Regions from separate parts of the Homo sapiens genome. Here region 2 is linked to region 1. Evidence: fine-mapped expression QTL. A gene starts in region 1. The other region holds a variant in brackets. All regions are shown on one strand. Distances are between the middles of the regions.

What was found. PIP is the estimated chance that this variant, and not a neighbour inherited with it, causes the effect. A credible set is the group of variants that fine-mapping cannot tell apart.
Region 2: its variant is the best candidate, but not a certain one, in a credible set for the expression of PSAP in whole blood (TOPMed, PIP 0.85).

Annotation. Positions count from the first base shown.
Region 1 is chr10:71,848,164-71,853,596 of GRCh38, forward strand. PSAP (prosaposin) reads right to left here and starts at 3,088. Exons shown (of 14, transcript NM_002778.4): 1 at 3,019-3,088. The coding sequence starts at 3,058. RefSeq lists enhancers at 1,347-1,846, 2,238-2,768, 2,769-3,299.
Region 2 is chr10:71,820,925-71,825,924 of GRCh38, forward strand. It overlaps PSAP (prosaposin), which reads right to left. Exons shown (of 14, transcript NM_002778.4): 7 at 4,913-4,969; 8 at 952-1,083. Among named protein-coding and RNA genes, the nearest start is that of PSAP, 28 kb to the right of the region's middle. The variant G/T (reference allele first, on the strand shown) is at 2,100.

The DNA of each region.
Region 1 (5,433 bases):
ACAATGTTTCCTTCGGGGCAAGTGGGACAGGGCAGTGAATGGGTGAACAGGGGCCTCTGGATGCTACTGCACTGCTCCCCAACCTCGGGGGCTGCTCACTTTGTGGTAATTCATCAAGTTGTCTACTTAATCGTCCACGTATGTAACTTACACTAAGTTTTTAAAAGTTAAGAGGTCCATGTGGACAGAGGGATATGGAAAAAGCGAGCACTGTGGAGTCTTGGGTTCTGGTCCTGGCATCCCCAGTAAATGGTCTATGATTTGGGAGAGTCACCTCTGGGCACCTCCAGGTCTTCATTCCTTACAAAGGGGTCAGATTACATGCTCTCCAATTCTCTCATGGTGCCATGGCTTTGCTTTCGCTTTTAGGTGGGGAAAAAGGAGGGGCAGCTGGATGGGCAGAAAAGTAACTCAAAAGCAAGTGTCTCTACCACCAGGACATCACTGAAACACAAAATACAAAGCCCATCCCGATTCAGGGTGGCATTCTGTACTACGACAGTGTCACGAAGAAAGTTCTAAGTGCCTCTCGGGCAGCAGACAATGGCTGCAGTCACCAGGCACTTTCACTAACAAAACTCATTATCATGTCTAGAAATTTTAGGAGTAACATTTTCACAATATCACAAAGGGGCCAGAGCTGTGAAGGCCAGGGAGCATTCAAACACTGTTATCAGCACTGACTTTGGCCTAATCCTAAAGGTAGGACAGCAAAGTTAAACCAAGGCCATTACAATACCTCCCATTTACCCGAGTGTTCACGGAAGAGGGTCCCTTGGTTAACTAAATATTGTGGTTAACCATAAGCCCATATATACCAGAGGTGGATTTTATATTTCCCGAGACACGATTGAGTCCCTTTTGGGTGATGTGAATGAATCAGAACTCTTAAGGGTCTTGTGAGGAGTGACTCAACGTCAACAAGAACAATGGATAATGTAAAAAGAAAGAAAAAAAATTGCCCTGAATCAGTATAAAAAATTTAGAGACCAGCATTAGTTTATTATACAGACCATGGAATAACTGCAGTATAAGCTTGAGTATAAAATCAAAATGATTTTTTTATAAGCAGATCATCTTTCATTGTGTACAAGTAAAACAAATTTAAGAGCTTCGTATAGGGTCAAGATACATTCTTGAGAGCTGCTGAAAGCTAACTCATTTCTTCGGTTTTGCATCAACCCTGTCATCCACTTTGTTACTTTTTATTAAAATTTGGGTAGCTAGGTTAAAAATGGCAGCCAGCCCTTAAACTACATATAGTTACTAAAAAACAGACATTGTGGTGGGGGCTGGGTGCGGTGTCTCACGCCTGTAATCCCAGAACTTTGGGAGGCTGAGGCGGGAGAATGGCTTGAACCCGGAAGGCGGAGGTTGCAGTTAGCCGAGACTACGCCATTGCACCACTCCGGCCTGGGCAACAACAGCGAAACTCCGTCTCAAAAAACAAACAAACAAACAAAACAAACAAACAAAAAAAAAACGGCCAATAGCGTGCAAGACTTTCTTTTCTCTTTTTCTTTTTTTCACAGGTGGGGTCTTGCTATGTTGCCCAGGCTGGTCTCCAACTCCTAGGCTCAAGCGATCCTCCCACCTCGGTGTCCCAATGTGCTGGGATTACAGGCATAAGCCACCGCACCCAGATGCAAGACATTTCAAAGCAAGTGAAATGAGGACCCCATGGCAAAATAACTGGACCAGAAAACCCTATATCGCCTTCAATACCTATGAGAATTAAGCTCCGATTTTTTTTAGCTTGCCCAAATTCCTATCTAAGGGGTGTAGGAATCATACCCTACAAACCATAAACTCTCATCAGATGGGTTTTATTTGACCCCATATATCGTGACTTACTTTCCAATCTGACTCTGGCATAACATTTTATAAGACAAGGAAAAAAAAATCAAAATATCTAACCCCAAAATATATTTCCTTGCCATACCTTGAAATTGCCCTGCAAAGTCTCTTGTGGGAAAAATCCACATTCTATAGAGAATCCCCTTTCCCCTATGTTTTCCTTCCTTCCTCTCCAGATCCAGGAGATAATCAACTAAGAGCCAGTCACCCTTTCATTTCCATAGAAATATTTTACAACGTGCTCGCTCTCTTAGTCGGCTACCTGAGAGCTTCCTCTGCACAATAAAACTTGGTCTCCACAATCCTTTATCTTAACTTGAATACTTTCTTTCTATTGATTCTAGGTTTTCAGATAAACTCAACCAATTATCAACTAGAAAATGTTTAAATTTACCTATGGCCTGGAAGCCCCCCGCCGCTTTGAGTTGTTTCGCCCTTCTGAACCAAACCAACGTATTTCTTAAATGTATTTGATTGATGTCTCGTGCCTCCCGAAAATATGTAAAACCCAGCTGTATCCCAACCACCTTAGGCACATGTTCTCAGGACCTCCTGAGGGCTGTGTCACGGGCCATGGTCACTCATATTTGCCTCAGAATAAATCTCAAAATATTTTTACAGAGTTTGACTCGTTTTGTCAACACCTAGAATCCAGAGTAAATACATATGCAAACGTCAATATAGATGATACACATGTGCTTCCTGCAGCTTCGCTACCCTTACAAACAGGCAACTGAAGCCAACGGCCAAAGTGTCCTGCGGGACGGGGCTCCAGCCCACCTCGATCACGTGCGCCCAGCACAGGCACAACACAGCTGCCCAAGGGGTCACCCTACAAGACTCACCCACCCCCACAGTGGGAAGCGCAGCCTGAGGGAAGGCCTCGGGGCCCCAGCCGCGCAGGAACCCACTCGAGCCCCGAAGGAGATGCTGCCCAGGGCCTGGGCCGTCCTCCCGGGGGCATTTTCGCAGCCCGCCCCCCGCAGCCCCCAGCCGCCCAGAGAAAGCCAGAGAAAGCCAGCGAACGCGCCTGCGCAGTGCGCGCGCCCCCTTGCCAACTAGGGCAGGGGGAGCAGAGGGGCCAGGCCCGGCACAGCCCATTCTGGGGCAGATGGACGCTGCGAGGCACCTCCTCCCCAGGATGAGGGTCCCAGGGCTTACCCGCGCCCAGGAGGCTGGCCAGGAGGAAGAGGGCGTACATAGCGCCGTCTGACTCCGCAGTCTGCAATGCGGAGCGTCAGCTGATCCCCCGCAGATATAAATCTGCCCTGCCCCAAAGCCGTCCAGAGCGCAGGCGCTAACCCCGCCCCATCCGGGCCTGCCCGAGCTCAACAGCGCCCTGACTCAGCGCCTCTGAGGGCGCCTGCGCGAAGGGGAGGCCAATAGGAGGGGGCAATGGGAGGGGCGAAAGGAAGGGCTATGGGGAGGAGTGAGGAAGAACTTGGAGAAAGGGAAGGGAAAGGTCATAAAAGAAAAGCCCTACTAATTGAATAGGTCAGAGATTATATATGTAAAATACCTTTTAAATCTCCACATTGTTGGCCGGCCGCGGTGGCTGACGCCTGTAATCCCAACACTTGGGAGGCCGAGGCGGGCGGAGGGTTCAAGACTAGCCTGGGCAACGTGGTGAAACCCCATCTCTACAAAAAAAAAAATACAAAAAAATTAGCCCATTGTAGTAGCGGGTTTCACATAGAATAGCTTGGGGTTTCACATAGAATAAGTAGTCGTGTAACAGGGTACAGGGCTCAGTCCTGGCCAGGGGCACGTGGGGGCAGGTGGTGGCACCTGGTCAAAGGCAAGTCTGGGCTGGGCATGCTGGCTCACTCCTGTAATCCTAACACTTTGGGAGGCCGAGGCGGGCGGATCATGAGGTCAGGAGTTCAAGACCAGCCTGGCCAATATGGTGAAACCCTGTCTCTACTAAAAATACAAAAATTAGTCAGGCGTGGTGGCGCTCGCCTGTGGTTCCAGCTATTTCAGGAGGCAGAGGCAGGAAAATTGCTTAAACCCGGGAGGTGGAGGTTGCCGTGAGTCAAGATCGCACTACTGCACTGCAGCCTGGACCACAGAGCGAGAGAGATTCCCATCACCAAAAAAAAAAAAACAAAAAACTTTTAAGCCTCACATTGTGGTACCGTTAAAGATGTAATACCATTCCTCACCCATCATAAGAGATCATAAGAGTCACAACCAACACTCCTGTAACGAGACAGCTTAAGAGAAAAGCATAACAAATTTATGTAATCAACGTTTTATGTGACATGGAAGCCTTCAGAAATTAAGACCCAAAGACCCTCTGCCTGTGGCTGCCCCTGCCAGGACCTGAACAGAGAATGATGATGACCCTCTCCAGAAGGATAAGAACCTGCCAACCGCAAGGCAGGGAAAGGAGGGGAATCTTAGCCCCTTAGGGCAGGCACTTAGAGGTCATTTACCTGTAGGGACATTGAGCCTAGGAGAGGGCAAGACGTTTATCCAAGGTCACACAACAGGTAGAGATAGAACCTGGCCCGAAGCCAGGTTTCCTGACCCAGGAAGGGCAAACCTACAGTTCCTCCAACTTCCTCCAATCTGCAATCCGCTCTGGAGAACAACCCCAGGGACTAAGGCCTCAGAACCTTCAGTTCTGCTCCCCTGCAATCTCCCTAAGTGCCCCCAGCCCCCACCACAGCTCTGACTTCCTCTGGGGAGCCAGATGGGGAAGTGTGCCCCATGCACCACAGTGGGCCATGTGAGGCAGCTGAGTGAGTTGGGACAAGATGTGGTCTCAACTGGACGCCTCACAGGTCGGCCTCAGTGGCCAGATGGAGACTTCGTGGCTGCTCCACCTTTGGGCTTCCCAAGGCCAGGCAGAAGCGTGGGGCAGACCACACAACAACTGGTTAAAAGCAAGGGAGCTAGCCGGGCGCGGTGGCTCACGCCTGTAATCCCAGCACTTTGGGAGGCCGAGGCAGGCAGATCACGAGGTCAGGAGATCGAGACCATCCTGGCTAACAGGGTGAAACCCCGTCTCTACTAAAAATACAAAAAATTAGCCGCACGATGTGGCGGGCGCCTGTAGTCCCAGCTACTCGGGAGGCTGAGGCAGGAGAATGGCGTGAACCCGGGAGGCGGAGCTTGCAGTGAGCCGAGATCGTGCCACTGCACTCCAGCCTGGGCAACAACAGCGAAACTCCGTCTCAAAAAAAAAACAAACAAAAAAAGCAAGGGAGCTGGGGCTCTAGGACAAATCCCCCATCCTTCAGCTCCTTGCAGATGGAGGAGCAAAGCATCCCAGTGCTCCATGCAGAGGTTACAGGACCCCAAGCCAAAAGGACGCTCAGAGACCTCAGATCATCCCCTCTCATCTTATAGAGCTACTGACATCTCAGGGCTGGTTAACAACAGAGCCTGAACCAGGACTTGTTTTTTTTGTTTTGTTTTGTTTTGTTTTGTTTTGTTTTTTGTTTGGAGATGGAGGCTCACTCTATCACCCAGGCTGGAGTGCAATGGTGCGATCTCAGCTCACTGCCACTTCTACCTCCCAGGTTCAAGCAATTCTCCTGCCTCAGCCTCCAGAGTAGCTGGGATAAC
Region 2 (5,000 bases), 27 kb before region 1:
CCTGCAATGTGGCTGGTGTAGCCAAGGGGCTGAATTTTTAATTTTGCTCCATGGTATTTCATTAAAATTTAAGTAGTCACATGTGGTTGGAGTGCGAGCTATAACTCTTCACTTTCTCTGGCCGTCACTTTGGTCAGCAGGCTGGAGCTGAGGAGCACCCGGTGGAGAGGAAGGCAAGAAGCAGTGCTTCCTGGATTCCAGCTGACACTTCGGCCTGGCCCCTGGGTCACACACTCTGCACATGCAGAGAGGAGACAGCAGAGAGAGACCAACAGCTGGCAGTCAAGTGCCGTGGGATGTTCTAGAACAAGAAGCGTGTACATGTGCCACGTGTTAAGGCATCACACAGCCCAGGCCTTGAAGAACTAGAATGTAAGCCCCACGGGCACAATGACATCATCTGTTCACCACAGCCCCTAACATGCTGCCTGACCCATAATAAATGCCAAATACAAATTTATTATGGGATGAAGTAGTCTAATCTTCACCAAGTGAGGTGTTTTAGTTAAATAAAATAGACACCCACATGTACTTAGTATACAGGCTGCAGGCCCAGTGAGGCTTCCGTACACTCTGAGGGGTGTGCTGGGAACATCCAGTCTGTCAGGGCCACAGGATGGGGAAGGACCCAGACAGTGCATGTGAGAAGGTGAGGCTGAAGCCAGGCACTGCAAAGTCACCTTTGAATGGCATGCTGAAAATACACAGGCTAATGATCCCACGAACATTAGGGTTTACAACCAAGGAAATAAAATGTTTTCAAAAGAACTCAGGGTCGGGGGCTGCATTAGTATAGGGGATAGGATAAACCAGTGATCACAAACTCAAAGACCTTTAGGAGCCAGGCAGGGAACCGAAAGAAACAAGTGACTCGTAAGATGTGATGTGACACAGCAGGGAGTAGTGTGGCATTGCACAGCCCTGACCAGGACACAAAGTGACACCAGGTACCTTAATGGGCTCCACCAGTTCCAGGGCAGGGATGACATTCTTGGAGGCCACTTTGGCGGGGACCAGAGTCTGCATGGGCATCTCTTTCACCTCATCACAGAACCCAACCAGCGCACAGATCTCCTTGGGTTGCTGAAGAGAGCACAGAACAACCAGTCAGCAGCAAGCCTACGCCCACTGCTCCTCAGTCCCAATCCAGCCAGAGGACAGGGAGCTGGACAGCACCCTGGGCCCAGGTCAAGGCTACCTCCCTCTCCCCCTCCCACAACGGGGCAGATTCCAGTTTCCATGTTAAAGGGCTCGTGTCTGAAGCAGTGCATATGTGCCAGTTACATCTCGGGGAGGAGACCACACAAAGCTCCTAAGGAACATCAAACAGAGTCTCCATCCAGGGCCACCACGAGGGAGACTCCCCAGCACCTTCCACATCTCCAAGGACACCTGGTCTGTTCTAGAATGTGTCTTTTCAGGTCACTCTAGGTAGGAACTAAGCTATGCTTTTTTCTAGAGGGGGAACTACCATGCCCATAAACTAACAGAAAGCCAAATGTGTTAGAAATAAAACCACACCAGATTTTTCAGCGGCAGGACCATTTAAAATGATGCATTAAGGGGAAATGCTGGCTTTTTAAAAAACCACATTCTATGTTCAAGCTGCACACAGTGCACATGAAAACCCAACCCGCCAAATGGATGAATCATTTTAAGCCACAAGGTCTCCAGATTGATCCCCTTTCACCATTTAGACACCAAACACAGAGCACTAGATAGTCTAGACATCCTGACCATGACACTCTGATGGCCAAGAGTGAGACAAGTGTATAGACTCTGTATATTGTGGAAATAAATGCAACCAGCAACTAGCTCTGAGCCTGAGTGCATTTGCCTTCCAGCACCAAACCCTAAAGCAGCAGGAACAAAAGTGCTAAAAACAGGACCTGTTAAGGGAAAAGAGCTAGACCATGACTATGGCTCATCTTGTTTTAATATCAAGAAGGTTCGAGAATTAATAAGACCGGGGGAGTCTGAAAAGTATATCCCAAATACCCTGTCTCTGCCACACCTTAAGAATGAAAAATAAATAAATAAATAAATAAATAATAAGAACGCAGCTGAAGATACAGCAAGCTTTTTAGAAAAAAAAAAAA[G/T]ACGCCAATATTCAGGAGGTATAGGGCTGCTTCTGCCTCGATCAGCTTTGTTCCAACTCCTTGAGGAGGCCTAGGTAAAAATTCAGGTATTTCAACCAAAGTCCTCTCCCATTAGACTTCAAAATACCTTCAAAAAAAGCTCCAATGCTAATCCTAGCAGATGGATGCCAACGCTCAGAGGTGGCAGTGTTCAGGACGGCCCCGAAGGACACTGGCTCAGAGCAAGTATGGACTGGGCATTTGGTTCTTGTAGCATGCCATCTGATGTGGCTCTAGATCCCAAAGGACCCTGTTACCCAGAGGGGCAGAAGCCACAATCAAGAGATTGTTTCCAATTCTCTGGATCCAACAGCCAGGAACAGTCTGCTGGCTGTCTGCAAATGTTTGCTCATGCAGCAGAAGCATTTCTGTGTTTATGAAAAACAGCACTAAAGACATGCAATGCCTACTTGCGTTGTGACAGACACAAGGTGCCCTGGGGAAGCCAGACCTACACTGGACTTCCTAACTGGCCTACGTTGAAGGAGGCTGAGGCACCTCCTGGGCCACCCATGGTTCCCCATTGTCACACTGGTGGCCTGCATGTACGTATGCTGTATGTGGACTGTGACCAGAGCACAAGGCTCTGCTGGCTTCATTTTACTGGACCCCGAAGGGGAGATGAGACCCCCAAAACCTCAAGGGCTGAATTACAGGGGAGAGATGCAGAAGCCCTCCCCAGCCTATTAACAGAGAGGGAGCCTGCCTCTCGTAACCATTCCTTGTATCTGTCAGAGCTAATCATGCCATACCCAAAAAAAAAAAAAGCAAAGTAACTAGAGGAAGCAGCAGACCACTACTGCAAGCAGATTCCCCGACACATACCTGATCCTGCTGTTGAACAAAAAAACAGGAAATCGGAGGTGAAAATAAGAGAAAGGAAAGGACACAACAGTTAAGAAAAATTAAAACAACAATCAAGCAGTTAACCAGGTGTAAGGATGTCCCAAGAGGTTCAGGGGAAATGCTCTTGCAATCAGATCTTAGCAACCTACCTTGTTCCTGCTATCTTGCGGACAAGGGGGCCCTGAAAGCTTTCCTGGCCCTGCAGGGATAGACCATTTGGGGGCTGTCCTGCTCTGTGTGCACCATCTCCAGGTCTTACACACTAAATCACACTCAAAACACTGTGTAGCAAGAGCCCCAGAAAATGCTTGATGAAGGGTCTCCATACTCAGGAGCCCACACTGGCCCCGGGCCCACAAGGCTTTCCCACAGGTTAGTGACCAGCAGCACCACAGAACAAGACACAGGGCTGCCCAAGTAAGGGGGGTAAGGGATCCCTGAGGGGTAAGGGATCCTAGGGCAATCTACTGCAGGTGGCCAAATGGCAGCCTGGAAGGCCAATTTAACAATGTATCCAAAGCCTCATGCTTCCATTCAGCAGTTCCAGCTTTAGTTCTCTATAATAAGGGGAAAGGCAGGGATATGCATATATGTATGCATTTGGCTATAAGGATATTCATCTTCCCAAAGGCAAACCTGAAAACAACCTAGATACATCCGGCCACCGGGGACCAATTATGTAAATTCTCTTCTATGTACACAGGTGATTATTCTGCAAGCATTTAGTCATTTGTACAAGAATATTCAATGGCCAACATATTTTTAGGCAAAAAATGCAAACTACAAAGTACAAGGTAGTATATATGAACCCGTTGATATATTCTGAAACTCCAAATGATTTTTGTGTGGGAAGTATTGTCCATATTTTCAACACATTTCTACACAGTATAACTTTTATAATGAGAAAAATATTTTAAGTTAGCTATGAGGAAGTACTTCACGAGATTAAATCCCGTCAATGCTTATCTTTACCTACTTCAGGTGCATGTCTCTGTAAGCTGCCTTTTAACTGTTTTTAGAACATGGTAGGGTGTGAGTAATAATCCCAAATAAACTACTCCTCCTCAGCTTGCTTGAGTGGTTACAGCAGGTCAGAGAGTCAATCTTTCAGGCTCCTTGGCCATAAGATCTGGCTGCAACTACTCAACTGTGCTGCTGTAGCACAAAACAGGCGTCGCTGTGTTCCAAAAAAATACCCTTTAAGTACAAAACATGATGGGCCAGTTTGCTGACCCCTGGATCAGAGAACAAACTCAAACGCTGGTATGTCAATCTCAAGTAGTCAGAAAGCATGACAGACAGGGAAAAGGTGCCCCCCACCCACTCAGCCCTGCCAATCAGATCTAAGGAGGCAGTGCCCGTTCCCAACGTGAGCAGGCCGCCCTGCTCTGCGTGGACTAGCGAGCTCATTTCCTGAATGGGTATTCTTGATTCTAATGAAGGAATGCCCCCTGCCACCTGAATGCATCCAAAGCCAGCTCAGGAGTTACCAGCTCAAGCAGCAGCTTCAGCGGACGCTGCTGCCATGCACGGGACAAACTCCGGGAGGCAGTATTCCCCCGACTCAGGTGGCAACACAGCCATTCTCAGGCCTGGCTTAGTTAGAGAGCACTTGACTTCTACAGATCCCAGGGTTAAAGCCAGACCTAGAAACCTGATGGCTGGCCTGAACGGGCAGAGGCAAACAAATTGCCAGGAAGCCACCAGGGCAGTCCTGGGATCAAGATGCTTCAGCCTGCCTCTCCCGTAACAGGGGAGGTACTGAGATTGCAAGTGGAGAGTCTCCTAGCCAGAGGGGTCGATTTAGCCCAATTCAGCACTCTAAGGTAAAAAAGGGAAACTAAACCATATAATTTTCAAAATTCCTAGAAATGACGAAACCTGAAAAACAAAGAAAAATGCTAACAAGGGGCCTCCGTGCCACCTACCATGTGCATCATCATCTGGATAGCAATTTCAGAATACTGGCTGATATAGTTCTTGCACTGAGGAGAGAGAAACAGATTGCTAAACAAA